Linked DNA regions of Homo sapiens: all the other regions are linked to region 1. The links come from fine-mapping of genetic effects on gene expression. A gene starts in region 1. Each other region holds a variant in brackets. All regions are shown on one strand. Distances are between the middles of the regions.

Region 1 (7,676 bases):
AAGGTAAAATCAAGAGGTCATGGGAACCCAGACACTTTCAGATGCTGATGGTGGGTATGTACTTTGCTACAAATATTTGGGAGGGCAATTTGGCAATACATTTTCAAAGCCTTAAAAATATTCTGACTTGATAAAAATCAGAATAGTGGTTACCTCTGGGAGGGTTATTGACTGGGGAGGGGGCTCAAGAGAGCCATCTGGGATGTTAGGTTCAATATCTTAATCTGGGTGGTGGTTTACAAGTGTGTGTGTGTGTGTGTGTGTGTGTGTGTGTGTGTGTTAAAATACATTGGTCTGTACATTTTATTACATGTGTGTTGATAAAAAAAGTTTAATTAAAAGTATGTGTTTGGAACGTTTGAACCAATAATTCCATGATAGTATTGTATCCTACGGTGAAAAAGATGCAAAGGTTTAGTTCATTGCATTATTTACAATGTTAAAAAACTGGCAATCTCTAAAATATTCAATAACAGTGAAATGGTAAATAAATTATGTTCCATTCATTTTAAATCATATTATCAAAGGTTTTTTCTTTACTGATATTGGAAAACATTTATTATATAGCGTTTGGTAACTAACACAGGTTACAAAATAGAAATAAATCAATAACAAAGTAAAGACAAGTACCAACACTGTTCCCTGGTGCTATGGTTATTTTCCTGGTACCCAAAGAAAAAGACCAGCTGGCAATGAGAATCAGGCAACACCCTTAACTATGGTTTTCCTCAATCAAGATTCACATGTTTGTGGTGCAGGCACTGAGTACTAGGCATTGACCTAAGGTAGTCTGGTGGGCACACCCCAACCTCAGTTAGGAATGTTTGGACTCTTTGAGGCTCTCCATTATTCTGAAGCTTCTCTCTGTCCTTGATCAACCAAAGTCTGGAAAACGAGAGTTGGATGGTGATAACCAGAGCGTAGAGATACTAGCTGGGATGTCTATAAGTATGTGCACTTGTGAATACCTGTATGGCCACCATTTTAAATATGCATGTATGCATGTATGTGTGTGTAAACATGTAGACATTTCTCTAGCCCACATTCCCAGAATTGGAATCAGGAAGGTATACTATGTAATTTAAATAGTCAAATTGGTCAGCAAAATAAGGAGATAATTGAATGCTATGGCTCTTCCCAGGGAGAATGTGTTAGACACAGAGCACCATCTGGCATTTTTCTACTGGTCTGAAGGCTTCTGGGGAGGGCGCTCATCACTGGTTTGAAGAAGATGGAGAGAAGTAGGCTGCAGCCCCATTGGTAAACATTTCCTGATGCTATAAAGCAGTTTGCAACCTAGGGCAACACTGTATGCTTGATTAAGCTTGCTATGAAAAGGATTTATTTTAAGGCATTTTAATAATTTCTTTTTTTTATCAAAAGCTAACCAAGCAGTTTTATAGTAGCCTTCACTTGCATGAAAGACCTGTTTCTTCATCTAGATGGCTTGCCTATTGGTAAGTTTTATTATAAACCTATTTATGTATAAACTCCACATGTGTTTTGACATGAAGAAAATCAGAATGGAGCCCAGGAAACATTGCCTCTTGCTTTTTAATCATCCTGTTCAATTTGAGTTAAAATAAACTTTTTTTTGGAGGAAAAGAGGTGTATGTACTGGGCTTAGTTAAAATGTAGGGGGTTTTCCCCCCAGTTCCCATTCTAGTCCCTCCCCTTTTCCCGATCCTCTCTCCAGACAAATACACCATCTCTGGGGAGAAGACTGCTACTACTCTCCAAGCTGCTGCAGCTGCTGCTATTGTCACTGCTACTGGTCTCAAAGTCATTTTTAACTTGACTGAGTGCGTGCTGTGCTCCAAGTCCCACAAGGCACCCCAAGAGACAGCACAAAAGAAACATACCATATGCAGTTCTTTTAAATAGCCAGCTCCTCTAGTACTTTATAAAATAATGTTCAATTTCAAGCAGGATTCAGGAATACAGATGTTGAGAAAGCAAACCTCACTCCCATTAAAGGTACCTCACTAGTTTGTGTCTTTGGGATTATAAAGGTCAAATTACATATGCCCTCTGCATCATTTGGTGGGTAGTGTGTTTCTCTCTGAATTGAAAAGCCCTCAATCTGTCCATCAAAACCAGCATGGTAACAAGTTTCTATTTGGCTTCTTTAGGGATCTCTTGCTGTGTGATTGCTATAGGGGAGCCAAGAATCTCTAAAGAAGGTGTCATATAGTCTTTAGAGCCTGTATAAAAACCTCTTTTCTTTCAGGCTACTTTCACAGAAACGAAATATGTTAATTAGCAAGCACTCCTGAGAAATCAGTGCTGGTTGCAGGAGTCCTCCACATTAAGTATGAGATATTTAGAATGAGAGGAGAAAGAGATAAGTAAACAGGACTCAAAGACAATCATTGCAGAAGTATAAATACAGGATTTCTCTCTGCCTTTGTGGAGCTTATAGAGACCCTGACACAAGCTAAGCAGGCTTAAGACACACACATCTACAATAGTAGGCATCTTGTCTCTATCTAGGACATATATCACAGATTTCTAAACCACATGTATAGTGTAGGGTTGCTAATAATACCTGACACAGCATTCAACGTGGCCCCTGGGGTGCCCAAGTTCTTTACAAAGGGCTTCCTTTTTAATCTTCAAGAAACATATTTTCTTCCTTCAGAAGATGGGAAAGGGCAAGGGCCTTCAGTCCCATTTCCTGGATAAGAAAAACAAAGCTTTACAGTAGATTAGCAAGGCAGATCTGGAAAGAGCCAAGTACTCTTCTTCATCCCATTGACTCTTAGAATAGTTTTATACTTGATTTGGTTTGGGTTTTTCGGGGAACATGGAGAAAGGATTGCAGCAACCATCAGAAGGAGGTGGTTGGAAGGAGACCTGGCAAGCAGAGCCTGGGAGCTCCTCAATGGGACAGTATGGGCACCTCCAAATAGGTATATTCTCTTAGCTATGTTAGGCTTCCAGGGCTGTTCCCAGAGGGAGGTGGAGTCCACTGTTACCCGCTTCCTCACCCTCCACCTCCCCTGGCCACCAGATAGATGTCTTGGGGGCACTCCAAGGAGGCCTCATCCTGATCTGCAGTTGTTTTGAGAACATTCAAACCACCTTTTGGTCCAACCACAAGGTGCTTCAAGCCCAATATCCTAATGGGGTCCAAAAGGATAGGTTCGAGAAGGATTTGGCTGTCTTCCAAGATCAATGACATTCCCACCTCATCCCCAGTTTCCCTTAGTAATCCACAGTGGATCTGTCAGCCATGACTTTACTTTCACTCTTTCCAAAGCTACTTGCATTTTCATCTTGCTGCATCTTTTGGAGCTAATGAATTCCTTAGGTTTTCCATTTGCTATAGAGAATAATAGTTCTTTTCAGTCGCCATAGCAAGAACACTCACCTTGGAGTCCAACAGATCTAGGTTCTAGCTCTCACTTCTGCCACTTACTAGCTGAGTGGGCACAGGATATTTTCTTCCCTTCTCTGAGATTCAGTTTCCTCCTCTGCATAATGGGGTTATTGATAACTCCTCTTCCTCCCTTGCATGGCTGCTATGATGATAAAATGAGATCCTTGTTATAAAAGCACTTGAACAGTACAAACTGGGGTTCTGGTGCAGAGTTATACTTTAGCTGAATTTTCTAGCTAAAGATTGGGGGCTGTTGGTTCTAGAATTCTCAGGTCTGGTGAATAAGGCTGTGCTCCTTCTCTCCGTCTCTGCATAATTTTATACACTCTGGTCACATCACTTCCCAGCCTTCATCGTTCTAGACTAAAGAGTCTGCGTTTGTTTAATCTATCTTCATATGTCAGCCACCACCCTCCCCCCGCCCCACACACACCATCCCTTTGATTATAGAGTGGCCCTTCTCTGGATCATCTCCAGCTCCATTATGTCATTCTGGAAGCACTAAGACCAGACCTGCTCAAGTGTGTGTGTGTGTGTGTGTGTGTGTGTGTGTGTTCCTCAGCTCTGAACCTCTGACTCTGACCCCCTCCCCAGTTATAAATCCTAGAACAGGATAATTACCCAAGACCCTGTCCAACTATAGAGAAGGTTGGTTGGCTTCATACTGAAGCCTCCCCCTCTTTCTCTGCGCAGCCCTGGCCCCAAGGGGCTAAAACTGCTCCCTGTCTGGCTTGGAAGGCTGGGAGGTGGATAACTAGGATGGGGAGACTGAGGGGGAGGGAGGAGGGGGGGGGTCTTGCGCAAGCGCACGCGGCTGCACGGACCGCCAATGCTGCTGCCTCCCAGAGCAGAGGGAGGCAGAAGAGGAGGGAGGGAGAAGAGTGGAAGGGAGGGGGAGGCGGCACTTGGGCTGCAGCTCGCAACCAGAGGCAGTGTCTCTCAGCTCTCGGAAGGACCGAGAGAGGCAACCGCGGAGTAGGATGCTCTGCGGGGCGCCCAGAGCCGGGGGCGCTTGAAGCAGCTTCGGGGACTGGGGCAACCGGGCAGTTTTCACCATGCATCAGTCCCTGACTCAGCAGCGGTCCAGCGACATGTCCCTGCCCGATTCCATGGGTAAGTCTAGCGGCCCTTCCTTCGGGCGGCGGCAGCAGGGGTTGAGTGCCCTGGCCTCTGGACTGTGAACGCCCCAGCTGCCCCAAAAGCCGGAGAGCGGGAAACGGGGCATGGATGGGGTGGTCTTCGCGCCCCAGCGTCTGGGTGGTGGACCAGAGTCCCAGGGGAGCGGCCTGGCTGCAGCGGGAGCGACGTGCGGAGATCGGAGCGCCAAGCTTGCGTCGGAGTATCTCTGCCCCGGAGTGCGGGTGTGTGCCTGTTTGTGTGCGTGTGTCTACAGACTTGCAGTCGGTGGTAAATCCCAGCAATCTGAGGATCAAAACACTTCCCTGCAACCTGCGCCTTCGCTTTCCATTCGACACTCCCTCTTTGCAAAGTCCTGGTCACTTCTAAGAGCTCACGACTAACGACAATTAGAAGCAGGGTCCTCGCCCCCTCCCAACTCTCTTGAAGCTGCCCTGAAATTTAGAGATGCAGTTGGGTGGGGGCCTGACTTGCACCTCGCTGATTGGGGGGGGGGGGCGGGTTGCGCAACTCTGGGGGATGGGCGGGGGTGAGAAGAAAGGGGGGGATGAGGGGAGGGGAATTCCTGAGGAATCACTCAAGACAGCCCAGCCCTGCCCTCTGCAGCGGCGGGATCAACATTCTTTGAATTTGATTGTTACTCTGCTCCAAATGCACGGAATGTGCATGAGTGTGAAAAGGGAGTCAGGGGCAGGAGTGAGAGCGCGAGAAAGAAACATCCAGCGCGAGCCCGCGCATCTTCTGAAGTCGCGCTTTTCCTCGCAGGGCGGAATGGAGGGGGAGGGGCACCCTTCGACTCCTTTCCTTATAGAAACTGGGGGACAGCTACCTTCGGGCACCAACTTGGCTGCCCCTCGAAGCTGCTTTTTGGTAGTTACAAAAAAAAACAAACCCAGTCCCCCTCAGCTGTTAGGCACCTTCCCAAGCCCTGTGATTTCACTGGGCGGAGAAATTAATTTGGAGCCCTGGAGAGCGGGAGGGGATTGTAAAATCATGATCCCACCTAATCTTTTAAAATTCGCCTCGGATACACTTCAATCAAATCGAATTCTCTCTTTCCAACATACTTTACATTCTGCAAAATCCCTCTGTCCCGCAGTTCCTGCCATCAGTCTGCTCAGGTCTTCTCCGATGAATTTGCGGGAACATCTCGAGTGGAGGGGGCAGGGAGAAGATCGAACCCCCTATATAATCTCCCTACTGCCCGCAGAAGACTCAGTGTCAACAAAACTCGTTCACCGGAGGGGCCCCAGAAAGTGTTATCTCCTGGATGGTGGAAAGATCCGTATCCTCAATGGTTTTGCATATTCAGTATAAGAATTTGCTTTTTCATTTTTAAGGGCGTAGTTATTTACAACGGGGTACAAATGAGGCCAAGGACTTGGTCCGAATCCCGAGCCCAGCAGTACCAGACTCCCCCTTACTCCCAGCTCGCGCGCGCGCACTCTTTCTCCAACACACACACCACGCGCACACACATACAGAGGGAGAGGGAGAGAGAGAGAGCGCGAGAGCGAGAGAGAGCGACAGCGAGAGCGAGAGAGAGAGAGACAGAGAGGTGGGAATGCACTGCTTACCTTGGCCAGCTGTGGCGCCAACAACGCAGCCCTGGCTCCCCGACGCCAAGCTGTTGCGCTTCGCGAGGGAGGGCAGAGTGGAAGAGTGCTGGGGTTCCGCAGCGTCCATTCCCGCTGCGGACGACAACCACCTAACCACCTGCAAATCAAGCCACAGCGCCCCGGGCCCGTCTGCCTTCGGGGAGTGGGCTGGTTGGTGGCCCAGGGCTTAAAGAGTCGCTACTTGGCGCACTGCTCTGTGGGTTGGGGAACAAGATGAAGAGCTTTCTTTCTTGGGCTCCCAGGGGCCCTCAGCGATCTTGTGTTTCTCGAAAGGTCTGCGCAACAAACAGCTGAGTGGGCTTCGCCCAGCCCAGTCTCCACACTGCGGGAAAGGAATCATAAATCCCAGATAGAAGCGGAGCCGGCGCCACGCATTCCACTTTTTGAAGTCCGCAGACCGACGGCACTGGCAAATTCCTGAGTCCAGTGCTAACGCTGGGTTTCCACAGTTTGGACAGGGGAGTCTCCCCGGAGTTCCCTGGCCCTGGTCCCGCACAGTCCGGGCCTGAATCAGCGTCTAGGCTACTTAGGAGCTACTCCCACTTAGCTCTGGCAACACCACCTTCCCTTGCGTGGGGGGAAGAGGACAGTGGGTAGGTAGGTTAGTGTTTCAGCCTCCAAGGGCAGCATTTCTGAGGGGACTCCCTTTATTGTCAAGACACAACCGCAACCAAAACAATAAAATTTAAAACACGCAGACACACTGCACCAAGGTGCCTGCACTCTACGCTTGCTGGCTGCCTGGGAATAGAGCAGTGCGTCCAAGGCTCAGAGTGGAGCAGGCGCTTTGCAATTAAGAAGATGGTAATTTGACTCCAGTGTCCCCCCATCCCCTCCCAGCAACCCCCTTCTCCCTTTTGGCAACACCGCCCCCAGGCGCAAAGGCACCTCTACTACAGTAGGGCATTCCTTCCTCCCAAATAACACATTTGTAATTCGCGGGCGGCCTCGGATGTTCTCCATTCAGAGAACTGTCTAAAGTGGGGAGGGATGGATTTCAGCGCCTTTAAGGAAATGTTTGGGAGATTGGCAGGGTCTTGAGGCCCTTGTGTGGGCAGCCACTTGTTTCTAGGGATACTCAAGGCTGGGATATCCGGGGACCCACCCTGTGTGGCAAAGCTGACTCAGGTAAGCAAATCCTAATCGGTTCAAAAGATCAACCCAGAGAACTAGCCAGGCATCAACAACACCGTGTACAGGACAGGATACTGGGTTCCCAACTTTTCTGTGCCCAATAAAGATTATACACCTTATCTACTCTCTTGGGAGAGGATAATCAAGAACGTGTGCAAGGTAAAACAAAGTAACAGAGACAGCATCCTACCTTCTAGCAACTCACATCTTGGTTCCCTCAGATACACAATCCTGGGACTGGCAGATATCATATGGGTTGTGGACCAGACCCACGGTTACAATTGTAATGGTACCAGTTACAATTAATATACTTATTGAGTAAGGTACCTGGGAATTTAGGGACATGAATAAGTGATTAATTTTGATCAAGAAAAACTTTTTGGAGGAGGGGAATTTTGAGCATG
Region 2 (7,676 bases), 35 kb after region 1:
TTTGAACACTCCCCTGAAGGTACTGGGGAGCCACAGAAGGGTTTTGATTAAGTGAATGACATATTTTTAAAAGTGTTTTAGGAAGAGTAATCAGGCAGCAGTGGGGTCTGGCAGGACAGCCTTACAGTGATGGAGGCATGAGGATGGGAGCAGTGGGAATGCAAAAGGTGCAATTTCAGAGGAAGCTCTGCCCAGAGACTGAACCAAATGGAATCCTGAATCTCAAGCAGAAAAAAACCACATTAATTTGCTAAACCCGAACCATATCTAAGAATTAGCTTTCTTTTCCTTCATGGTTCAGTGAAAAAAAAAAATTAAATGGCTGCTGGAACCACTCAAACTGAAACCAAGTATATATTATCTAAAATTATTGAATATTTTAAAACAAACTACTATCCTATTCCCATATTGCGGTTTGTGCCTACAAAGTCTTAATACTGGCCAGGGACAGTGGCTCATGGCTGTAATCCCAGGACTTTGGGAGCCTGAAATGGGAGGATAGATTGAGCCTAGGAGTTCGAGGCCAGCCTGGGCAACATGTCAGAACCGCATCTCTACAAAATTTAGCTGGGCATGGCAGTGTGAGCCTGCAGTCCCAGTTACTTGGGAGGCTGAGGTTGGAGGATCACTTGAGTCAAGGAGGTTGAGGCTGCAGTGAGCCATGACCATACCACTGCACTCCAGCCTGGGTGACAGAGCAAGACCCCATCAAAAAAAAAAAAAAAAAAAAAAAAGAAAGAAAAGGAAAGAAAAGAAGGAAGGAAAAAAAAAGAAAAAGAAAAAACCCAACCAACCAAACAAACAAAAAACAAAATAAAGTGTTAATACCTTTAAGAACAGGGTTCAAAGGTTTGAATTGTGTTGCCAGAGGCTGGCTCTTAGAAGGAACAAAATGTAGCTACATATTTTAGTGGAGGCTTTTATTATATGTTGGAGTACTGCTTTCATGCCTGTTGGCATTACATCCCCCGGGCTCAGAGAAGTTAAGTAAAGTAAGTAACCTAAGAGTAAGAAAGTAAGTTGCTAGAGTCAGCATCTGGTGACAGAGCATAGATGACAGAGCCAGGATTCGAACACAGTCTGACTTCAGAGTCAGCTATGGCATACTGCCTGCCTATATATACTACTAGTCCACCCTTGGTGTTTTAGGAGGCAGGCAAACATAATTTGGGGGATGTCAGAAGTTGACTCCCAAGCTACAAAGGTGCTCCTGCAGTTCCACACTCACCCATACACACAGGTCTGTCCTTTTCAGAGAATAGTCCTTGTACAGCTGTCCGTTTTTGGGGGCAGTAAATAATCTGTGCATCCTCCCTGCCCTGTCCCCAGGGCCTAGTACAATGCCAGCTAATAGGAGACAATGTATGCTTATGCATGGGCTCTTGAGATATGCTCCTGAAAATACTGAAATCCAATTCAAACTCTGATTAATTGAAACTCCCTTAAAATTCCACTATGGGCCAAGTGTGGTGGCTCACACCTGGAATCCCAGCACTTTGGGAGGCTGATGTGGGAGTATCTCTTGATGCCAGGAGTTCAAGACCAGCCTGGCCAATATAGTAAGACTCTGTCTCTACAAAAAATATTTTTTTAAAAAATTCCACTACGGAAGCTTACTATTAAAAACAGTGGGTCTCAAACATTGATGAACTTGTTAACACAGATTCTTGACCCCATCACCAGAGATTCTACCAGATTCAGTAGGACTGGGGCTGGGCCTAGGAATCTGCATGTTTAACCATCTCTCTTTCTCAAAGATACATGCACAGATACACGCAGAGACACCCACAGGCACACACAAATAATGCACTGATACAAACAGGCAGGCACACATAGACACAAACACAGATGATTCTGATGCAGTCTGCCCTGTAACCACACTGACTTCACCTCCTTAGAGAAACACTGACTTTAAAGAATCTGAAGATAAATTCATCTGTAAAGTTTAAGTCTTTTCATATGTGAATAGTCCCTCTCTGATTCATTTTGGAGATCAGCCTTTGATTGTTTTTCTGTTTTCTTTTTTGCATTCTTATAGCAGGGGAGTCACATGTAATAATCATCCTAATGCCAGGGCGTTTCGTTGTGACTTTAAGTGTTTTAGATTCGTGATGAACTCCAGTGGCCAAGTTGTAAACTAGTTTGTGACATCCAGGAGGACAGGAACTTTCATTTAATTAATTCCACAGGTATTTATGTAGCACCAACTGTGTGTCAAGCACAGCAGTGAGCAAAATGAACCAGTTCCTGCCCTCATGGAGCTCACGTTCAAGTTGGGGAGGCAGACAATAACGTAGTAGACACATCAGTAAGTTATTTTCATATGGGAATGAATGCTACAGAGAAATTAGAAAAGGGTGATGTATTGCTTAGCTCGGGCTGCCATAACACGATACCATAGACCAGGTGGCTTAAACAATAGAAATGTACTTATTTCTCTCATTTCTGGAGGCTGGAAGTCTAAGATCAGGGTGCCAACATGGTCGAGCTCTGGTGAGGGCTCTCTACCTGGCTTGTGCCACTTCCCCTCTGTGCTCACAGTGACCTTTCCTTTCACATTCAAGTAGGGAGGGAGAGAACGAAAGTCGGGGTCGGGGGTGGGTGGGGGAGGGGCGTGGAGTAGGGAAGTCAGGGGAGAAGGAGGGAAAAAGAGGAGGAGGAGGAGGAGAGCGAGATCTTCCTTTTCTTATAAAGCCACCAATCCTATCCGATTAGGACCCCACCCTTGTGGCCTCATTTAACTTTAATTATCTTCTAAAAGCCCTATCTAAAAATACAGTCACATTGGGGGATAGGGCTTTAACACATGAATTTGGAGGGACAAAATTCATTCCATAGCGGATAATGTGATAGAGAGCGACAGGGCTGGGAAGGGGTGTCTTTGGACAGAGTGGTCAAGAAAGGCCTCCCCACGGAGGCGACTTTCAGGTTTTGTGTAGCAACTCAGCTTTAGTTGTTTACCAGGACATTGGTTTTTATTTGTTTGTTTTTTTGTTTGTTTTGTTTTGAGAGGGCACACACTGAAGTCTTTGAAGCCTGAATTCAGGTCCCAGTTCTACCACTTACGACTTGGGCAAGTTCTTTAACTTCTCTGTGCTTCACTTTCTTCATCTGTAAAATGTGCATGGTGATAGTCCCTATTTGATAGGATACTGTGAGGATTTGCAGAACTTTCTGCAATGATGGAAATGTTCTGTAACCTGCTCTGTCCAGTATAGTAAACACTAGCCACATGTGACTATTGAGCACTTGAAATGTGGCTGGTGAGACTTACCAACTGAATTTTTCTTTTTACTTAATTTTACTTAATTTAAATTTAAATAGCCACATGTGGCTAGTAGCTACCACATTAAACAGCACAGATGCAATGAATTCACACATGTGAAATGCTTAGCACTGTGCCTGGTACATAGCAAGTGTCAATAAGTGCTATCTAGGATTAGTGTTAGTGGTGGTTACAAGTATTTTTCTGGCAGGTAGGAGTTTTTTTTCGGGGAGTGGGGATAAACA[A/G]TCACACTTTGATTTATTATAGTACATGGCTATGATGTCTCTTACTGTAGCTCCCCACCTGCCCACCTGTCTTTTCACTGAGCTGTATGGTAGCCCAATCCCAGAGTTGGGGAGGGGGCTGGGGAGGACAGCCTGCTCCCTGGGGACTGACTGGAGCATGCTCCTCCCTGTCCAGCCGGGTGGAGATCACTGGTGGGTACTACGAATACATCGATGTCAGCAGTTGCCAAGATATCATCCACCTCTACCACCTGCTCTGGTCTGCCACCATCCTCAACATTGTTGGCCTGTTCCTGGGCATCATCACTGCCGCTGTCCTTGGAGGCTTTAAGGACATGGTAAGGAAAGAATTGACTTTGCATTTCACAGTGGCCCCTGTTGGACATAGGGGGAAGGCTAGGCAGTTGGGGGAAATGCAGACACATATTTTGAAGGGAAGAATCAGAAGCAATTGCTTCAAGGATGTAGCTGCCTTCAAATGTCTCAAGTTGAAGGAGCCAGGTAATGTCATCAGTCTGCAAATATTTCTTGTTATACACAAATTACCTGTGTTCTGGAGGCACCTTCTAGGGGTGGGGGGTGAAAGGAGGAAGGGGTGTTCTCAGTTCCCCCATTCGCACTGGTTATGTAAACATAGTCTTTTATAGCCCCACCCCACACTTTTAGTAAAATTTTTTGGGAATAGTTTTCCCCTAACAAACTTTGGGAGAGATGGAAGGAAAGGTTATTCTAGCTATAGGTAGGATTAATGCTAGTCTTCCCCTCCCCAGGTATTTCATAGTGAAGTTTCTTCAGAAAGAGCATCTGGGCTCTTTTCTGTTTGCATTCGCAGAGCCAGCTCTAGGCTAAGTTGCTTGCCAGGTCTTGCCTTCAACTTGGACCTCAACCTCAGCCTCCCCACTTTCCATTCTTCCCTTCCAAATCTTTTCTATTTGTGTGTGTGTGTCTGCAAAGGCACAGCAGGACTCAGCATTCAGTAGGTACTCCATATAGTAGGCTTCTTTTTTTCCTTTCCTTCTAAGGCATTTCTAAGCATTTATTTGTTTATTTGATAAATCTAGATCTCTAATTATGGAGATAATAGCTTTGAGTTATGGTTATCAACCTGGCTTCATATAAGAATCACCTGCCCAGCATGGTGGCTCATGCTTGTAATCTCAGCCCTTTGGGAGGCCAAGACAGGAGGATTGACTAAGCCCAGGGGTTTGAGACTAGGCTGAGCAACAGCCCCTGTCTCTATTAAGAAAAAACAACTTTTTTTAATTAGCTGGGTGTAGTGGCACATATCTGTAGTCCCAGCTACTTGGGAGGCTGAAGTGGGAGGATCACTTGAGCCCAGGAGGTTGAGGTTGCAGTAAGCCATGATTGCACCACTGCACTCCAGCCTGGGTGACAGAGTAAGACCCTGTCTCTAAAAAAAAAAAAAAAAAAAAAAAAATGCTTGGGCTCCTTCTCTAAAGATTCTGATTTAATTGGTCTAAACTGAAGCCCAGGCATCAGGTTTTGTTTTTTGGTTTTTTGGTTTTTTTTTTTTAAGCTCCCAGGTAATTCTGATCTGCAGCCATGATTGAATACCACTGCTTTAAATGAACATCCCACATCTGTTTATGGAATTATTTTGTGCCTAAGAGGGACTTTCCTTTGACCCCAGAAATTAGCTCCTAGGCCCTTGGCTGTTTCTGTCAGATTTTGGGGTCCCTGAAGAACAGAACCTGAAAGGCAGTTTGTAATTTGATCCTGGACGGTCAAAAGGATGAATGTTGGAAAGTGAAAGGTGGGGTAGGACAAGGGAAAAGAAAGAAACTCTGTCGTTTTGGATTGCAAGTCTCCAGCAGTACTGGGCTGACTGGAACTATTAAGTGTTCCTGCTAGTGACTCTAAGTCAAGAGAAATCCTTTCCTGCCCATCTGCACTCTCTCTTTCTTCTTTCTCTCCCTCTCTCATCCGCACATTTCTCTTCCCAGCTTCCCTCCCCAGACTCTGGAATGCCCAAGCACTAACAAGTAGGGGAAGCATCAACAAAGGTGGAGCCCCAGGAGGGAAAAGGATTTCCTGTAAATTTGGCCTTGAGGAAGCTTTTAGGTTAGAGAGCTGCAAAAAAAGCTGTTTCTGGGTTGGGGCTTCTTTGGAGAAAAGAATGCCCTTTGTTCTTGGAGAATTTCCCCAGGGGGCAGATGAAAGTACAGGTATTGTGTGGAATCTCAGCAGCTTTGGCTGGAAGAGAAGCTCCCAGGTTTGGCGAGTTGAGGAGATGGGACCTCAGGATGAGTGTTAAGAGTTCTCTAAATTGTCCCTAGAGCTTTCAGGCTTGGATGGCAGAGATACCTTGATGCACAAATGGAGTAGGTGGTAGCTACTTGGTAGGCTCTGTGGGGTGCCTGTAAGGCTTCCCCCTCTCCAATTTTACCCTACTGTGGGCGCTGAAACTGCCACCATGTTTTATTCCTTACTTTAAGATAAGCATTGTCCTTTTTCTCCTTGTCCACTTTCAAGATGCGTGTATTAAACAAAGGAATAGGCTAGTAGGCCACAGAGGTGTTTATACTTTGAGTTACTAGTCTCTCAGTGTGAAGGATTTGATAAGACCCTTTTCCATGGTGATGGAAAGAATTGGATTTTGAAGGCAAAGGGCATCTGAGGAAGACAGGGAGAGTGGCTAGATGGACACTTTCAAGAAATTTCTGGAAGTTGGAAAGAAGGGAGGAATAGGAAGATGATATGCTAAGGAACACAACCCTGCCAAGCTTTTAGCCTTAGCTTTAGTCCCGTTTTCCCTCACTGTCCCCCTTTAAAAAAAATTGAGGTGGAAGTCACAAACATAAAATTGATCACTTCAAAGTGTACAATTCAGTGGCATTTAGTACACTCACAATGTTGTGCAATCATCATTTCTGTCTAGTTCTAGAACTTTTTCATTACCTGAAACCTGTACCCATTAAACAATCACTCCTTGTTGCCCCTTCCCTGAGGCCCCAGCAACCCCTAATCTGCTGTCTGTCCCTATGGATTTACCTATTACAGGTATTTTCTATAAATGGAATCATGCAATATTCGAACTTCTGGGTCTGGCTCCTTTCACTTATCATATTTTTTTTGTTTTTAAAATTCATCTACCTTGTAGCATATATCAGTGCTTCATTTCTTTTTATGGCTGAATAATATTCCATTGTATGGATAGACCACGTTTTGTTTAGTTTTTTATCCATTGATATACATTTGGGTTGTTTTCATGTTTTAGCTACTGAGAATAGTGCCTTCATGAACAATCACTTACAAGTACTTGTTTGATTACCTGCTTCCAATTCTTTTTCCACCTATGGGTGGAATTGCTGGGTCATTTGGTAATTCTATGTTTAACTTTTTGAGGAGCTGCCAAACTGTTTTCCACAGCAGCTGTGTCATTTTACGTTCCTACCTGCAGTGTGTGAGGGTTCCAATTTCTCCACATCCTCACCAACACTTTCTCAAAAAAAATTATAAACATTCTAGTGGGCACAAAGTGGTATCTTGTTGTGGTTTTGATTTGTACTTCCCTGCTGACCAGTGATGTTGGGCATCTTTTTATATGTTTGTGTGCAATTTGTATGTATATCTTCTTTGGAGAAATATCTATCAAGTTTTTGCAGATTTTTTTATTTTCCAAACAATATTCAAGATTGTTAAACAAAATTTTAAAGTATTATAAAATGTTTAATTTTCATTAGCTTTAAGGTTTATGTTACCCCCAAATTTTGTATATAACTGAAGTTTCAAATCTACTAACACTCACTGAATTGATACCACTCTGGATTCTAAGGCATCAGTTTCTTCTTACCAATTTTTCTTTGCTTCTTCTAACATTTCTTGTGTTTCATCTTGAGAATGGCTAATGAAAACATCACCAATTTGATAAGGTATCATTAAGCAGTCATCATCTGCAAGCATGATGTCATTGCAAACAACTTCTAAATTGTGGAGTTGTTTCCTTTTAACTTCTGTTTCTTCCTTCAGCTCTGTGATTCTACTCATATTCCTTGCAAATTTGTTTACCTAATGTTGATCTTCAAAAGTAGCGTTGAAATTTTCTGCAGCCTGTAAACAACAGCACTAGTAGCACCTACCTGTGGACTTGTGAGGGCTGATGTGATAACCCAGGTAAAGTGCATGTATTAGTCCATTCTCACACT
Region 3 (7,676 bases), 130 kb before region 1:
TTTTACTCCCCATTGCCTTTGCTCTGGGTCCAGTCCACATTACCTCTTGCCTGGACCATTCAAACAGCTCCTGCCTGATTGCTCCTCTTCCTCACCTTCTCCATTGTTCTACATCAACTTAACCTTCCTAAAGCACATCTCTCCATCAGTGTTTCTCTCTTTCTTTTCTTTCTTTCTTTCTTTTCTTTTTTCTTTTCTTTTCTTTCCTTCCTTCCTTCCTTCCTTCTTTCTTCTTTTCCTTCTTTTCTTTTCTTTCTTTGACAGAGTCTCGCTTTGTCGCCCAGGCTGGAGTGCAGTAGCGAGACCTCAGCTCACTACAACCTCCGCCTCCCAGATTCAAGCGATTCTCCTGCCTCAGCTGCCCAAATAGCTGGAACTACAGGCATGTGCCACCACGCCTGGCTAATTTTTTGTATTTTTAATAGAGACGGGATTTCACCGTGTTAGCCAGGATGGTCTCGATCTCCTGACCTCATGGTCTGCCTGCCTCACAATGTTTCTCTTTTGCCAACAAGGTAACATCTAAAGTCCATGGCTGGGTAGTTCAAGCCTTCTTTTCTCCCATGCAATGCAGCCTGCATTTTCAGCCTTCACTCCCTCTTTATGAACCTTATGTTTCCTTTAGTTCCTTCAGGGTGCTTCCCTCATCCTGTCCTCTGTGCACTTCTTGTGAGGTAGGAGAACATAGTAATAATAATTACATAGACTCCGCAGCCATACTCCCAAAATGGGGATGATAACAGCACCTATTGCATAGGAGTGTTGTACTTACTCAGCGAAGCATCATATGTAAAGTTTTAAGAACAGTGCTGGGCACTTAGTAAGTGCTCAAATGCTAGCATAAAAATTTGAGATTATGCTTATTTTCTAACTACCGTTATTTATACTCTTGCTCTCTCAAATACCCCTTTTCCCACTTGTTTCCTAAGAGAATCCTGCCCGGTTCAAAATGCCCCATCCCTAAGCTGGCATTACTTTTTCTCCTCCCTTATTTGGAAGTGATTTCTCTCCTATTTTCATGACTTCTCACTTTCTTTTTTGTAATATGGTTGTTTATGTGTTTATCTTACCTTCCCTGGCAGATTGCAAACAGGGTGAAGGCAGGATTGAAGTGTGGTTCATTTTGGTAGCTCCTGGAGTACTTGCACTCTGAAATTATTAGAATGACTGGCTGATCAGATGAGTACTTCAGAAAGATAATAGCAGTGAAAAGGAAAGATTAGGACTGGAGGGGCTGAAAGGCAGGGAGCCCACTTAAGAGGCTGCTGTGATCCAGGCTAGAGGTGGTGAGGGCTCAGCAAGTGACAGGAGGAATAAAATTGAGGCCATAAATCTTCAAGTGTCTGAGATCCACATGACTACACCTGTGCTCCAAAAGTTGGAAACAAAATACAGAGGAAAGGGATTTCTGTCAGATTATGAGTTCTCTTTTACTTAGTTGCAGTTTATTCTACCGCATGATTTCTTCTTCTGTGTAATAGTGTTAGATTGCTTTTCTTCTGTGGGTATTAACCGTATCTGTTATCTGTAGACAGTTGTGAAATGTTAATTAACTGGAAGCTCTTTTTCAAACAGAAAAATGAAAACCGATTTTATCTGAAGGAAGTGAACATCAGCATGTATTTGGTTAATGGCTCCGGTAAGCAAAGCACTGGCCTGGGGAAAAAGACTGTGGATTACCCTGAAGGATTAGAAATTACAATGGTCTTATTACCAAATAGTGCCTTATTTAATGAAACAGAAGATGCTATGTAAAAAGTGTACCTTGATCATACCTTAAAATCAGTAACTTAGAACTATGATGTTCTGTCTTTTTCTGTATCCCATTTTTTCAAAGTAGAGTAGATAATAATTAAGGATATGACTGATTTTTAGACTATAGAAACATCTATAGAAAGATAAGGGAACCTAGTTATGGTAAGAATTGCTTTTTGTGGGTTGATCTTGTCCCCCAGGCCTTCACTGAAAAACCCTGAGGACTGTTCCTTTTTTTTTTTTTTTTTTTTTTTGAGACAGGGTCTCGCTCTATGCCCAGGCCAGATTGCAGGGGTGTGACCACAGCTCAATCCCAGGTTCAAGCCAACTACCCACCTCAGCCTCCTAGGTAGCTGGGACTACAGGTGTGCACCATCATGCCCAGCTAATTTTTTTTTGTATTTTTTGTAGAGACAGGGTTTCACCATGTTGCCCAGGCTGGTCTTGATCTCCTGGGCTCACGTGATCTGCCCACCTTGGCTTCCCAAAGTGCTGGAATTACAGGCGTGAGCCACTGTGCCTGGCCAACTTTCCCATTTTTGATGTTGATAGGATAAGAAGTTACTAACCTGTTTCTTTTCTTTGAAGTTTTCAGCATTGCAAATAACAATCTCAGCTACTGGGATGCCCCCCTGGGAAGTTCTTATATGTGCAACAAAGAGCAGACTGTTTCAGTGTCTGGAGCATTTCAGATAAATACCTTTGATCTAAGGGTTCAGCCTTTCAATGTGACACAAGGAAAGTATTCTACAGGTAAGAATCAAGCAAACTTCATTAATAATTTATGTTCTTATGTTGACAGGTGGCTTTTCCTTTGAATCATAGACATTTAAACGTTGAAATAGAGGAATATGAATTCATAGCCTTGACCAAATTGTGCAACTCTATATTTGGCTCATCATTTTGCTCAACCGAGATGTTTTTGTGATCTTAAAATCATTTGCAAAAAAAGTTCTTAAAGCTAAAACTGATAGAAGCTTTAAGTGAGCTTTATTTGAGGTATGGGTTTTAGTTTGTAGGGAAGATGGCACTTGGGAGCAGCAGCTTTGAGCATCTTGCATCTGCTTCCTGAGGCCGTCTTCTCACTGGAAACATTTTCATACCTGAATGAAAGCAGTTTGGTCTGATTTTGTTAAGACAAAAGATAAAGAGCGGTAGCAAAGCCTCAAATATCATGAACTATGTTTTTACCAGCCAAAACGATCTGGAGAGTTTTCAAAGCATGTGCCAGTGTGAATGACGCTTTTTGAAGATCACTCAGGGATAATGGTGGTATTTATTAGATTTTTAATGAAACC[T/CT]TTTGAAGGGCTCATTATAATGTGTTCATACGAATATGAAAGACATATTTGGCATTACAAGATTAAAATTTGCATGAAGAAAAAAAGCACATAAAATTCCTTAATTGACTTGTCCTTTTAAGCCTATTACCTAAAATTGGGGGTTTGTGGATCACAACTCTGTTGAGCAGAGCTAGCTATTCCAGGCATCCACATCCTTTTCAACCATTAATTCTATGGTTTGGAAGGAAATGTGGAAGCTGTGTTTAAAAGCGAATATACTGTGAGCCATTCGACTACTTTTGCAGTGGTGTTGAATACCTAGTCTGACTTGGTTAGGCCACAATAAATTGGGCTCTCCACCCTACCATTCTTGCGATTAAAGACGTTAGTTACACTTTAAAAATATTTTCAAGAATTCATTTTCCCTTTTGTCTGTTTTGCTTATGTACTTCAATTATTTTGATCCTTTAGTAGCTTTATTTTTGGACTTTTTATCTGGCTCCCCTTCATTATTCCCCTAATTTTAAGTCCAGATTTGTGTTTACAGTTTAAAATCGTTTGCAGTATTAGTATCATCACTTCAAGACTGTTTATCTAGTCACCTGTAATAGAGATGAGCTGTGCTCTTTCTCTTACTTTGAAACTTTGGTTTTTATGTACATAGAATTAAAAATATCACCCAAAGAGATATACAGCATTTAATACTGATATTGAATGTATAATCTATTTGTGGAACTAGGTTCTTGGCTGTGGGTACCTATAAATACAACACATAGGTAATATTTGACTGTATGGGGAAAGAAATAGAATTGCAATAAGGCAGAAGAGTGTTGATTGGATTTTACTGGATCAGACCACTTTCTAGAAGTAGAAAAAAATAGCCCCCTTAGGCTGCCAACCCTGACCAGATAAGAAATGCAGTAAGCACGCTCAAATTAGTAAGAGGTCCCAGTTTTCTTGACTTTGCAGCCACTAAAATTGTATGTACTAAGTCACGATCTGCAAACTTTAAAGTTCCAAACAGTGAGTGTTTTAGGCTTTGGTGCCATATGGTCTCTGTCACAACTATTTGACCCTGCTATTGTAGCACGAAAACAGCAACACATAAACAGATGACTGTGGCTGGGTTCCAATAAAACCTTATTTATGGACACTGGAATTTGAATTTTATATGCTCTCATGTGTCACAAAATATTTTTTTCAACCATTTAAAAATGTAAAGGCCATTTTTAGCTCTTGGACCAGATCTGGCCCATGGGCTACAGCTTGCTGACCCCTGACCCTAAAGACAGAGCCAGCCTGGCTATTCTCATCACATGATACCTTCCTGATCCTGTTTCCACTTTCCCAAAAGACATTCACTCTACCACTGAGAGGCTAATCTGGCTATGTAAAAGTGGGCTAGATTAGCTCCCTTTATTTCTGATAAAGTAATATGCCTATTTTGGAAAGGACTTGGAATATAAACAAACATATATGTGTGTATGTATATGTATATGCACACATATATATCACATATAAAATATATATCATATATATAATGTGTGCATTATATATCATATATAATGTGCATATATTATATATATGCACACATATACAATGTGCATATAATATATGCACATTACAATATGAGCTGTGTTTATAGATGTAAATGAATATACATGTATTCATATATATGAATATCTGCATATATACACATAAACAAATGAAAGGACAAAGAAAGTCTTAGAATTTTAATTCTAGAACAGTTCTCCATTTTCTATAGCTTTATCATAAAAATATACCTGTCTTAGTTACTTGAAGTTGATCTTGTAAGAACATTTCTGACTTTTAAATCAACATCTTTGACTTCGAGACATTCTTTTGTGATTATACTCATTATTTATTACACACTTTTTCTCACCTACAGCCCAAGAGTGTTCGCTGGATGATGACACCATTCTAATCCCAATTATAGTTGGTGCTGGTCTTTCAGGCTTGATTATCGTTATAGTGATTGCTTACGTAATTGGCAGAAGAAAAAGTTATGCTGGATATCAGACTCTGTAACACTAATCAATACGTGATCTCTGTTACAAAAGAAAAAAGCAAGTACAAGTTCCAACATGCAATACTGGTCAACTTAAGGTATATTTAGTTGCAGTCCAGCTCTTTAGAATGGGTGGTATGGGGGATTTCAAACTTAAACAAAAAACTATCAACTACAAATTAGTTGCCTGACTTTGGTTTTTCCAACCAAGGAATTTAAAACTGTTATTTTTACAGCAAAAGATGTGCAAAATCACTGGATTATAAGTTCTATTTTACTGTCTTGAATTAGTATTTCAGTGTTTTCATTTTAGACATTCAGACTAAAAATACACCGTTTAGAAAAAACAATTTTTGAAAAAGAGATTTTTTTTCCCTGCAGGTAGTTGAGTTGGAACAACATGTTCTACCGTGGATTTGTACTTGCTCCTTTTGCTCTTTTTGTGTGTGTGTGTGTGTGTGTGTGTGTGTGTGTGTGTGTGATTTTTGTTTGCAGGTTAACTTAGCTACTTTGGCATTGCTGCATATTTGACCTTTGAGAGATATAATAGTAGATTTGAACAGGGGCTGGTATTATTATGTTCTTAGCAATAAATGCTTTTCTAATGCCTTTTGAATACATTTGTATTTATGTGGCTGTAATGACAAAAGATACAAAAGCTTTTTAAAATTTAGAGTAGGTATTAATCTTATTGTTTAATCTTTTTTTTAAAAAAACTGGATATTTCAATCTTTTAAATTGCAATATATAAGACTATTCCAACTGGGCATTTCAATCCATTTTTTAGGTGCTTTAGAGATAATTGCTTGCCAGTGCCAATTGAGGGCATTAGTACTTTGTGCTCATAAATTGGCCTCTGTATGCAGTACTAAAATTAATGCAGATTTCTCTTTAGCCTTCCAACATTTCTTGTTGATAGTGATGTATTTTATTATTTTCTTTTTCTTAAGAAATGCCAGTGTGTCCTAGAACCTAGATAACGAAGTGCACTTACACTTATAAAATAACTTGCATCTAGGCTGGGCGTGGCGGCTCACGCCTGTAATCCCAGCACTTTGGGAGGCCGAAGTGGGTGGATCACTTGAGGCCAGGAGTTTGAGACCAGCCTGGCCAACATGGTGAAACCCCATCTCTATCAGAAATACAAAAAATTAGCTGGGCGTGGTGGTGGGCGCCTGTAATCCCAGTTACTCGGGAGGCTGAGGCAGGAGAATCACTTGAACCCGGGAGGCAGAGGTTGCGGTGAGCCAAGAGCGCACCATTGCACTCCAGCCTGGGCGACAAAAACGAAACTCCATCTCAAAACAAAACAAAACAAAACAAACAAACAAACAAAACTTGCATCTAACCAAAAAGTCTTGGTTTTATCTTAATCCATTAAAAAGTTGTTCTTTGTTTCCAGCTTGCATTGATTGCTACAACATCACTAATTTGGCTTTCACATTTAAATGGTTCTGTGCTAATCAAAACTTTCGTTGTTATTATTCATTATGGTAGAATCATTTTTAATTCACGTGCTTTGTGTTCAGTTTTGTGGTCTGAGAGATGTACCAATTGTCAAATTACCGTGTACCACCTAATGTTTATAGGAGAAAGCAAAATACATCAGCTTGGTAGTTAACACATCAAATATTTCTTGCTGCTTCTAGGAGAACTTTTTTGGTGTGTGTTGGAATGGCTGAGCAAATATTAAAATTGTTAATATGCAGCCATATATGGAAGGTTCCTGTGGGGTTGTTTTTTCGTGTTTTTTTTTTTTTTGTGGTGGGATTATGTGCCTCCCATTCACTAGAAAATGAGAAAATTGTCTGGGTTCCAAAATATTGACATTGAATGGATCAATACACACACACAGACATATATATATATATGCACACATATATAGGCAGTTGCATGCTAGCATGGGTATTTTTATAACAATATAACTGAGTTATATTGGAATTATAAATATTTTCCGTCACTTAAATTTGTTCTTTGTTTAGCCTGAAAACCTTTATGGCTCAAGATCAGATTCCTGACTAACCCCTCTCTTAGAGCTACAGCGAGCTGCATTACCAGCTTAAAACACTTCTTAGGGATTAAATATAGATGTAATTTTTCAAAATCGTTTTTAATTTAAACTGTGTTTTAGTGTAAAATTGTTAACCTTGTAAGATGGATAATGTGTATAAGAATGTAGGCCTTAACTATTTCACATGAGTCAAAACAAAGCAGCTTTAAAAAAATAATTGGAAGCACAAGTGCATGGCACTGACTGAATGCTGTTAATATTTCTAAAAGTTTCTACATTCAGATTATATGCCTGATTCATAGTAAAATACCTCTAATAAACACTGTTTTATAGAAAACCTGACTTCAGTGAATATTTTTGTATTTTACATGGGCCAGTTTATATACTGCTATTTACACTATTATTTCCTATAGCTACATGTTCTTTGTACCTTTTGTAGTTTTATTTGTATTACTAGATTCATACCTTGATGGTAACGCTCTATCTGGTTTTGGGTGTTTTTCATGTTTTAGCATTTGTATAAAGAAACTGGTCCATGTAAATACTTTCCATGTTTTTTCTTCAAATGTTTAAACCACTAGTTGATGTATGGTATCTTTAG
Region 4 (7,676 bases), 25 kb after region 1:
GGAGCTAGGCCTTTGACACGTGGGTAAGATTTGAGAAGGCAAAGGATCAGGGGAATTGCTTAGAACTAGTATTGGGGGCAACGGGGTAGAGAGAGAGCACCAAGAAGCCACATGACTTATGGTCAATGCCGTCACCCAAATAGTCTATGAAATGGCATCTGAAGAAACAATTCCTGGGCAAGGAGAAAAACAAGGAATGCCAGAGAAAGGCCCTTTGCCTGATTTTCTTTCAGGACCAGGAATATAAATGTAGGCCCCTCTACCAGATCCATCCCTTCTGATTTTAGCTGAGATCAGCCATCTTTTTCATCATCTTTTTCTTCTTATAAAGCAAATGACACATCAGTAACTTTAAACATCCATAATTCTACCACCCTAACTTGACAATTTTTATTGTTTTTGCATATTAGCTGCTGAGTATATACCTATTTTTGTAGCATAGTTGCAGTCAATCATAGTATGCATACTATTTTGTATTCAACAGAAGCCATCTTAATAACAATAATTCCTTGTTTTGTGTAGTGCATTTAGCTTTTCAATGTGACTTCACATCTATTACCTCATTTGAAACCCACAGTAATCCTGTGATATATATAGGGCAGGCATTATTATCCCCATTTGACAAACAGTATTCACTCTGAGGCAGTCTCCATGGCAACATAGGCCTAGTGGCTAAGAAGCCTGCAGTAGATTTTGATGGCAGCATGAGCTAAAATGGCTTCCTTTTTTCCCCTCTTCCCCTCATTCCTAATGTTGTTTAATAGCTTTATTGAGATATAATTCACATCCCATACAATTCACCCATTTAATGTGTATAATTCAATGATTTTTAATATATTTAGTATGTATCAGTTATTTATGTGCAACCATCACCACAGTCAATTTTAGATTTTCATCATCTTGAAAAGAAATCCCATACCCTTTAGCTTTCACCTCCACATTCCCACATTCTCCCCAGACCCAAGCAACCACTAATATACTTTCTTTGTGTAAGGTATCCCTATTCTAGACATTTCATATTAATAGAATAATATAATATATATATTCTCTTGTGATTGGTTTCTTTCAGTTAGTATAATGTTTTCAAGATTCGTTCATGTTGTATCAAGTACTTCATTCCGTTTTATGGACTAATAACATTCCGTTGTATGGGTATACCACATTTTCTTTGTCCGTTCACTAGTTGGTGTACATTTGAGTTGTTTCCACTTTTTGGTTATTATGAATAATTCTACTGTAAACATTTATGTACAAATTTATGCATGGATATATGTTTTCATTTTCATTTTCATTTTCTTTCTACCTAAGAGTATAACTGCTGGATCATATAGTAAGTATGTTTATTTGTTTGAGGAACTGCCAGAGTATTTTCCAAAGTGGCTGCACTATTTTACATTCCCACCAGAGTGTTTGATGGGTTTGATTTTGCTACATACTCATCAACTCTCATTATTATCTGACTTTTTGATTCCAGCCATCCTAGTGGGTATGAAGCAGTATCTCATTATGGTTTTGATTTGCATTTTCCTGACATTCCAATGTTTTTGATCATTGGCTCCAGTCAAAGGCAATGGGCAAAAATTCAAATTATATTTACTGGAAGTTTCCTCTAATGACCACTACTTGCCTCTGAGTCCAGGCCCTCTGTACCTCCTGCTGCTGGTGACCTGCAGTACAGCATTTGACTCAAGTATTTGGGGGTACGACTGGATGAATATTTAAGAAAATCTTTCTGCTTATACTATACCTGCCCTAAGACATTGGCTAGTCCTCATTGACACCCAGAGAGCTTTGAGGAAGGAGGCTTTATTAATCTATGATGGTATCTGTTGGCCAACTTAAATGAAAGGCACATTTGGACCCTAGCACAGCTTGGATGGGTGAGAGCCAGCTGTCCTATTGTTGAGGCCCTTTAACATCATCTTTCCCTGTTCCTTTGACTTGGGTGAATCTGAACTTCCTCTCAAGACCTACCACCTTCTCACTCACCCTTCTCTATGTGTCTTGTGCCATTTCTCTTTTGTCTCATATTTCTTTCCTTTCCCCTCTCCCTAGTATAGCCATTAACTAGCTTGGAAAATCACTTTACCTTCTTGTACCATAGTTTTCTTTTCTTCTAAATGGATATAGTAGTAACCTACCTTTCAGGGTTAGCATGAACGTGAAATTAAATAATGGGAATGGATATGCCCTAAGAGGGCCTGGCATAGAGCAGACACTCAACATAAAACAATTTCCTTTTCTACCCCTTCATGCCATAGTTGGTAGCCCTTCAGATTACAGAGGTTGCCAAGCCCTGGCTGAGTGACCTTTTCTTGCCTCCCAATTGCCTTGTTCTTGTTACTCTTCTGGGCCTCAATGAAGAGTATCAGCCAGAGGCAGCAAATGGGCAACTATCACACGTCTGTCTTCATGTAGGGCACTTGGTGCCTGAATGCTTTTTGCAAAACCAGGAGGTGAGAAGGGCTGTGACCAGCACATTAAGCCTCCTCTTCAGCAGGATAATTATGATAATTATTCTGCCACTACCCAAACACCAAACATGGACAATAAGCCCTTCCAGGTGTGAGCATGAACACCCTCATTCCTTTCCAGCTAGACTCCAAGCTAAGCTAACAGGGCAAGGTACTTTCAGAACATTGAGCAGGCAGGAGTTTCATGTAGAAGTAGCTAGCTGATGGAAAGTCCTAGAACCTTAATGGGGAGGCCGGCTAAAAGGCAGGAGGCATTTGAGTGCCAAGTACAAAAGACGCTAAATCACATGTGTGGGGAAAAGCAGCCACTGAGATGATCGTAAATGGTGAAAGAAGTGGGGGCAGAAGGGAAGGAGACAATACATAAATTCCCTCTGCCTGGGTACTTCTGCCAAACCCCAAGGTCAATTTGCATAAGTTGTTTGTCCTGTCCTAAGGTGCCTTTGGAAGAAGCCCCCTACCACTCAGGGGAGGTTTAGCATCAGTCCGGAAAGTGAACAGCAGCTCCTGCCTGCAAGCTTCCAGGCAGCCCTGGCTTGTGTCTATTGGTTCTACCCCAACCCCCATGCATGAGAGCTCTCTCTCATCAGGAAGCTGGCCAAGCCAGCAGAGTAAATCGACTGTCCTTGAGCCCCATGTTAGTTTTCTGAGACTTGAACAGTGTTTTTGGAGTTCACTGATTTTATCTAATCTATGCAGTTGGGTGAAAATGGCTCACAGTTCAATTGAGTTAAAATCTACAGCAGCCTCAGGAGCTGCCCCTCCTCCTGAGGCTTGCTTCCTGAGCTCTTCCTTCTGAAAATGATGCGGAAATGACAGCAAGAGGTACAAGTCAGCCAACCATAGTCCTGTCCCCAGGTGATAATGAAACCTCATTGTTGGACTTGAGCTCTCTCTGCTTGAAAGTGTCATTTCATAATAACCTGGAGTTTTGCATCTTGTTCCCTGAGGACTGTTTACAAGAAGACAAAGGCCAGAAGTAAAAGAAAACCAGAGAGGAAATTTCAAGAAGCCCATTTCTCAATCAGTTTCATAATTTCTCATTAACCAAGTAGTCTAATAGAAAGTAATTTTTAAAGTATTTTTGTCTAATCTTCACTCAGTCTCCCTAGACAGGTGACTTTCAGAAATTAACCCAATCTACTGCCTGCCTGCTTCTGTGTGTGTGTGTGTGTGTGTGTGTGTGTATTCAAACCTTTTATTACCAAGTACAACACTTGCTGTTTTATTTTCCAAAGTCAAAACCCCTTTGTTTTGGTGTTTCCCTTTTCAGGATCTGAAACCACTCTACGCTAACCGGTGCCATTATGTTCCCAAGACATCACAGAAGGAAGCTGAGGAGGTGAGCCAGAATGAGGCTGCATGTCTTTACCTCCTGGGAAAGTCCCCTGTTCTGCCTGAAACACCCTTTCTTTTACTCCTTTTCATGGGCCTAAGTTTTATTTCTAGGTATGTATAGCTGATTTGTTCAGTGGGTCAGAGCACATTGCTAATGAGGCCATGGTCATAGGTTGGAGCCTCATGAGGCCTAATCAGTTTTACTTTGTTCTGTGGCCACAGGCTGACCCTCTGACCCCAGCCGGGAGCCTCCCCATATGTGGCTTTGATCCTCAGGGGGACAAATGAGAGTACAGAGGCCACAGGACATGACCCTCCCCCATCTCTGTGGATGATGGTTCAGTTGCCTGAACTCAGTGCTCAGTTGGAATAAAAGTGG[A/G]AGCCCCACCAGGGCACTAGGCCTGAACTACGGAGGCAGAGCCTGAGTTCCACACATAGGATGGGTCTGGAAGCCAAATGAGGGTAACTGAGAAGCCAGATCCACCTTTATGCTCTGGGGAGGCTGGGACTGTCAGCCTGGCCCCTCTCATAACACCTCCAAGAGGCCAGCCTAATAATGCTTGAGCATGCACAGATGAGTCTCTCTTCTGCCCCAAACAGCTCTCCTTATGTTCCATGTTGCCTCAAGCAGAGCTAGATGCAATGCGTAGTGAGGCAAAGTATGACTCCAGGTCATTTTTGGAGAGCTTTCATTTCAGTATACAATAATCCCTTCCCAACCCAGGGATTTCTCCATATGAAACTGTACCTAGGCTTCCAGGAATCTTGACAATTTTGTACTCTATTAACCTCACATTGAAAGTCAATCATTCCCAAATAGTTAGAAAAATGGTAAACTTTCAGTTGGGAAGAGAAAAGGAAGGCAATTGGATGTAAAATGGCCACTGCATTGCACAGCTTCAGGGGAAGCCATTTTACATAAAATACAATGTGAATGGGTGCCCTTGGAGTAAGGCAAAGCAGTCCTGCTCCAAAGGCACCATGGCAAATACTTTGATTATGTCTCTGCCATCCACTTGACTCCTTTTTCTTTTAACAACCATAAATTTACTATTTCTCTCACTGTTCTCAGGTTAGATAGGAGGAATAGAAATGCATATATGATAACAGCTTATCTGAAAGGCAGTAAGCATTTGGATGAAGGACCCAATATAGAAAAAAATGCCCATTTGCTATGAATATTCTCTATAACAAAGCAAGACAAATTTAGCAGCACTTCATTGCATCTGGATGGGGGAGAGAGCTGGACAATTTCTTGCTAACAAGAGATGGTAAATGAAATTCTTTTCCGTTTTTAAAACCTTTTTGCTAACTCAAAATGTGTAAAATGTCATTGCTGTTCTCTAGATTTTGTTGTGATAGCTTTCTTGCGTTAATTTGGTGACTGTAAAAATATTAATAATGACTTCCATAGGTTCACTTGTAACCCTGGTCCCCCTAACCCTATTTTTCCTACATAAGGTCATAAGTTCCTCAACCAAAAATTCTCCTTCCACGAGGGTTATGAGGAACCTTACCCAGGCAGCTAGAGAGGTACTATTGTACTTCAGAGTGCATGCGCCGGCTCCTCTGTCTTCCTTCCCACCTTATCTTCTTTCCTCCTGTACCCTGATTTTGCCTGCCCTCATATTCTCATTTCCTTCAGTCCATTTGTTCTTCCGTCTGTCCTTCCATCTGTCCTTCCTTCTCTCCATCTCCACCATTCAGGGATGGGGCACTGAGGGCTGTGGCAGAGGCTGGACATGAGCCCAGCTACACAGTGACTTGCCTCATGCACAAGTTCGGCCAGCTCCCCATCCAGCCCCATCCTTCCCACACATTGGGTGTTCATTTCAAAGCCATCCTTACTGTCTCCATCAGTCACTAACTCGCATTTCCAATCCCAGAGGGTCCTGCTTCCTATCCAATGCCAGCTCATCTCCTCACTGTTATATACCGTCAGGTTAACTGCCCTCACCTCAGCCGTGAATTCTGCACACCTCGCATCCGGGGCAACACCTGCTTCTGCTGTGACCTCTACAACTGTGGCAAGTAAGTGTTGAGGCCCAGACACAGGAATAATGGTCTGACCACAACGGACACTAGAAGGGCTGAGGTTAAGGAAGGGTGCATTGTGGGAATTAGGGAAGTGGAAGACATTGATCTGTTAACAGATTTTGGCTAACAGACATTACTTGCCTTCTCTGTGCCAGGCATCATGCTAGGTACTTTCACATACTTGATCTCATTTAATTCTTACTTATGATGTATGCAGAGTAATCCTCATTTTATAGATGAGGAGAGTGAAGTTCAAAGGAAACAGACAACTAGCCCAAGGTTACACAGAACTTGAAAATAATATGTATAGGATTCAAACTCAGCTCTGTCTATATCCAAGTTTAACAATGTTCAATAAATAGTTACTGAGTACCTTCTCGGTGCCTGGCTCTGTTCTAGACACTGAAGGTTCAGCAGCCAACAAAACAGAAGTCCTTTCCCCTGTGGAGCTTATATTCTAGTAGGGGAGACAGTCAACAAATACAGAAATATATAATATAATGCCAGGTGGTGATCAGAGCTCTGAAGAAAAATGAAGCAGGAGAGGTAGATAGTGATGAGGGGTGTGTGTGTGTGTGTGTGTGCGTGCACGTGCACATGCACGCACACTGTATGTTAGATAGAGTAGCCAGGGAAGGCCTCTTTGAGCAGGTGACATTTGTGCAGACCTGAAAGTAGTTGGGGGTGGGTGGGCAACCCAGGTAGATACCTGGAGAAAGAGTGCTTCAAGCAGAGGGAATAGCAAGTGCAAAGGTTCTGAGGCAGGAGCAGTTTTGGTGCTGGTTCTGCTACAGCCACTCTGGCTCTGTGCACTCCAAATTGCTAAAACATCCTTTATTCTTTCTTTCAAAATATATTTGGGCGCTAGGAATACAGAGATTGCCACTGAAGAGCTCGTAGACTAGTAAAGAGGATGGACATGTGAACAATCGATTGCAATATAATGTGATAAGTGCAGTGGGGATCAGTGGATGTGGTGGGGATTCTGGAGGCCCAATGAATGAAAGTCAGAGTTTGCCGGGAGGGAAAAGTGTCAAAGAGTAGGTGATATGGGAGCTGAGACTTACAGAATAAGTAGGGAATCAGGAGACAAACCAAAAGAAGACAGAGGTGGGAAGGATATTCCTGGTAGTTGTGAAGAGGTAGTGGGTGGAGGTAGTTACAGAAGGTGTGGTAGGAGGTAAGACAGAGGTGTAGCCAGAGATCAGATGATAGAGAGCTCATTGGCCATAGGAATGACTTCAGACTTGACCCTGTAGGCAACTGGGGGCCATTGAAGGGTACAGCATGGAAGATGGAATTGAGTGGTTGAGGAATGGAGGCAGCTAGGAGGCCATTGCAAGAGCGCAGGCCATAGAGAATGGAGCCTAGATCAAGTTGGAGACAATGCAAAGCGGGGAATCATTTTAAGAGCAATTTAGAAGGTAGAATCAATAGGGATGTGTGAGTAGGTGATGTGCACAGTGAGTGAACACCTCTCCATGCAGGGTATGTCGACCAATGTTCGTCATGCACGTATTTCCTTCAGAATCTTAGTGAAGGCGAACTGAGGGCCACGGGAGGGAGGGAGTAAGGGGAGGAACCTGCAGAGTGGGGCTGGATGGAGCTAGATTCAGAGGCAGCAAGTGGATGCAGCCCCCTCATCACTCACATTCCCTACTGTCGGTATTTTGGGGTCAGTTACTCTGGTTTAAGGATTAAGACTTGCCAGACTAGAGTCAGGGAGGAGAAGGCAGAGACCATACACCAGCTCTTTACCTTCTTTGCTTGTGCCAGTCTTGTTTCATTGAAAGGTTTGGCAGTGGAGGAAGAGAAATTTACAGATTC

Which allele goes with the higher level. Positions count from the first base shown, and alleles are read on the strand shown. Sizes are in standard deviations (SD) of each study's normalised expression. Not every link is listed here.
For the expression in atrial appendage of the gene that starts at base 4,286 in region 1, T is the low allele of the variant in region 3 and CT is the other (small effect, 0.35 SD a copy in GTEx).

The links. PIP is the estimated chance that this variant, and not a neighbour inherited with it, causes the effect.
Region 2: its variant is the best candidate, but not a certain one, in a credible set for the expression of TMEM255A in blood mononuclear cells (TOPMed, PIP 0.87).
Region 3: its variant is the best candidate, but not a certain one, in a credible set for the expression of TMEM255A in atrial appendage (GTEx, PIP 0.88).
Region 4: its variant is the best candidate, but not a certain one, in a credible set for the expression of TMEM255A in monocytes (TOPMed, PIP 0.50).

What each region holds. Positions count from the first base shown.
Region 1 is chrX:120,308,071-120,315,746 of GRCh38, reverse strand. TMEM255A (transmembrane protein 255A) reads left to right here and starts at 4,286. Exons shown (of 9, transcript NM_001104544.3): 1 at 4,286-4,495. The coding sequence starts at 4,438. RefSeq lists an enhancer at 6,270-6,319.
Region 2 is chrX:120,273,057-120,280,732 of GRCh38, reverse strand. It overlaps TMEM255A (transmembrane protein 255A), which reads left to right. Exons shown (of 9, transcript NM_001104544.3): 7 at 3,686-3,848. It also overlaps the pseudogene PFDN4P3. Among named protein-coding and RNA genes, the nearest start is that of ZBTB33, 26 kb to the right of the region's middle. RefSeq lists an enhancer at 5,276-5,953. The variant A/G (reference allele first, on the strand shown) is at 3,511.
Region 3 is chrX:120,436,562-120,444,237 of GRCh38, reverse strand. LAMP2 (lysosomal associated membrane protein 2) reads left to right here. Exons shown (of 9, transcript NM_002294.3): 7 at 1,576-1,639; 8 at 2,344-2,508. Among named protein-coding and RNA genes, the nearest start is that of LAMP2, 29 kb to the left of the region's middle. The variant T/CT (reference allele first, on the strand shown) is at 3,054.
Region 4 is chrX:120,283,294-120,290,969 of GRCh38, reverse strand. It overlaps TMEM255A (transmembrane protein 255A), which reads left to right. Exons shown (of 9, transcript NM_001104544.3): 5 at 3,748-3,816; 6 at 5,755-5,843. Among named protein-coding and RNA genes, the nearest start is that of TMEM255A, 24 kb to the left of the region's middle. The variant A/G (reference allele first, on the strand shown) is at 4,192.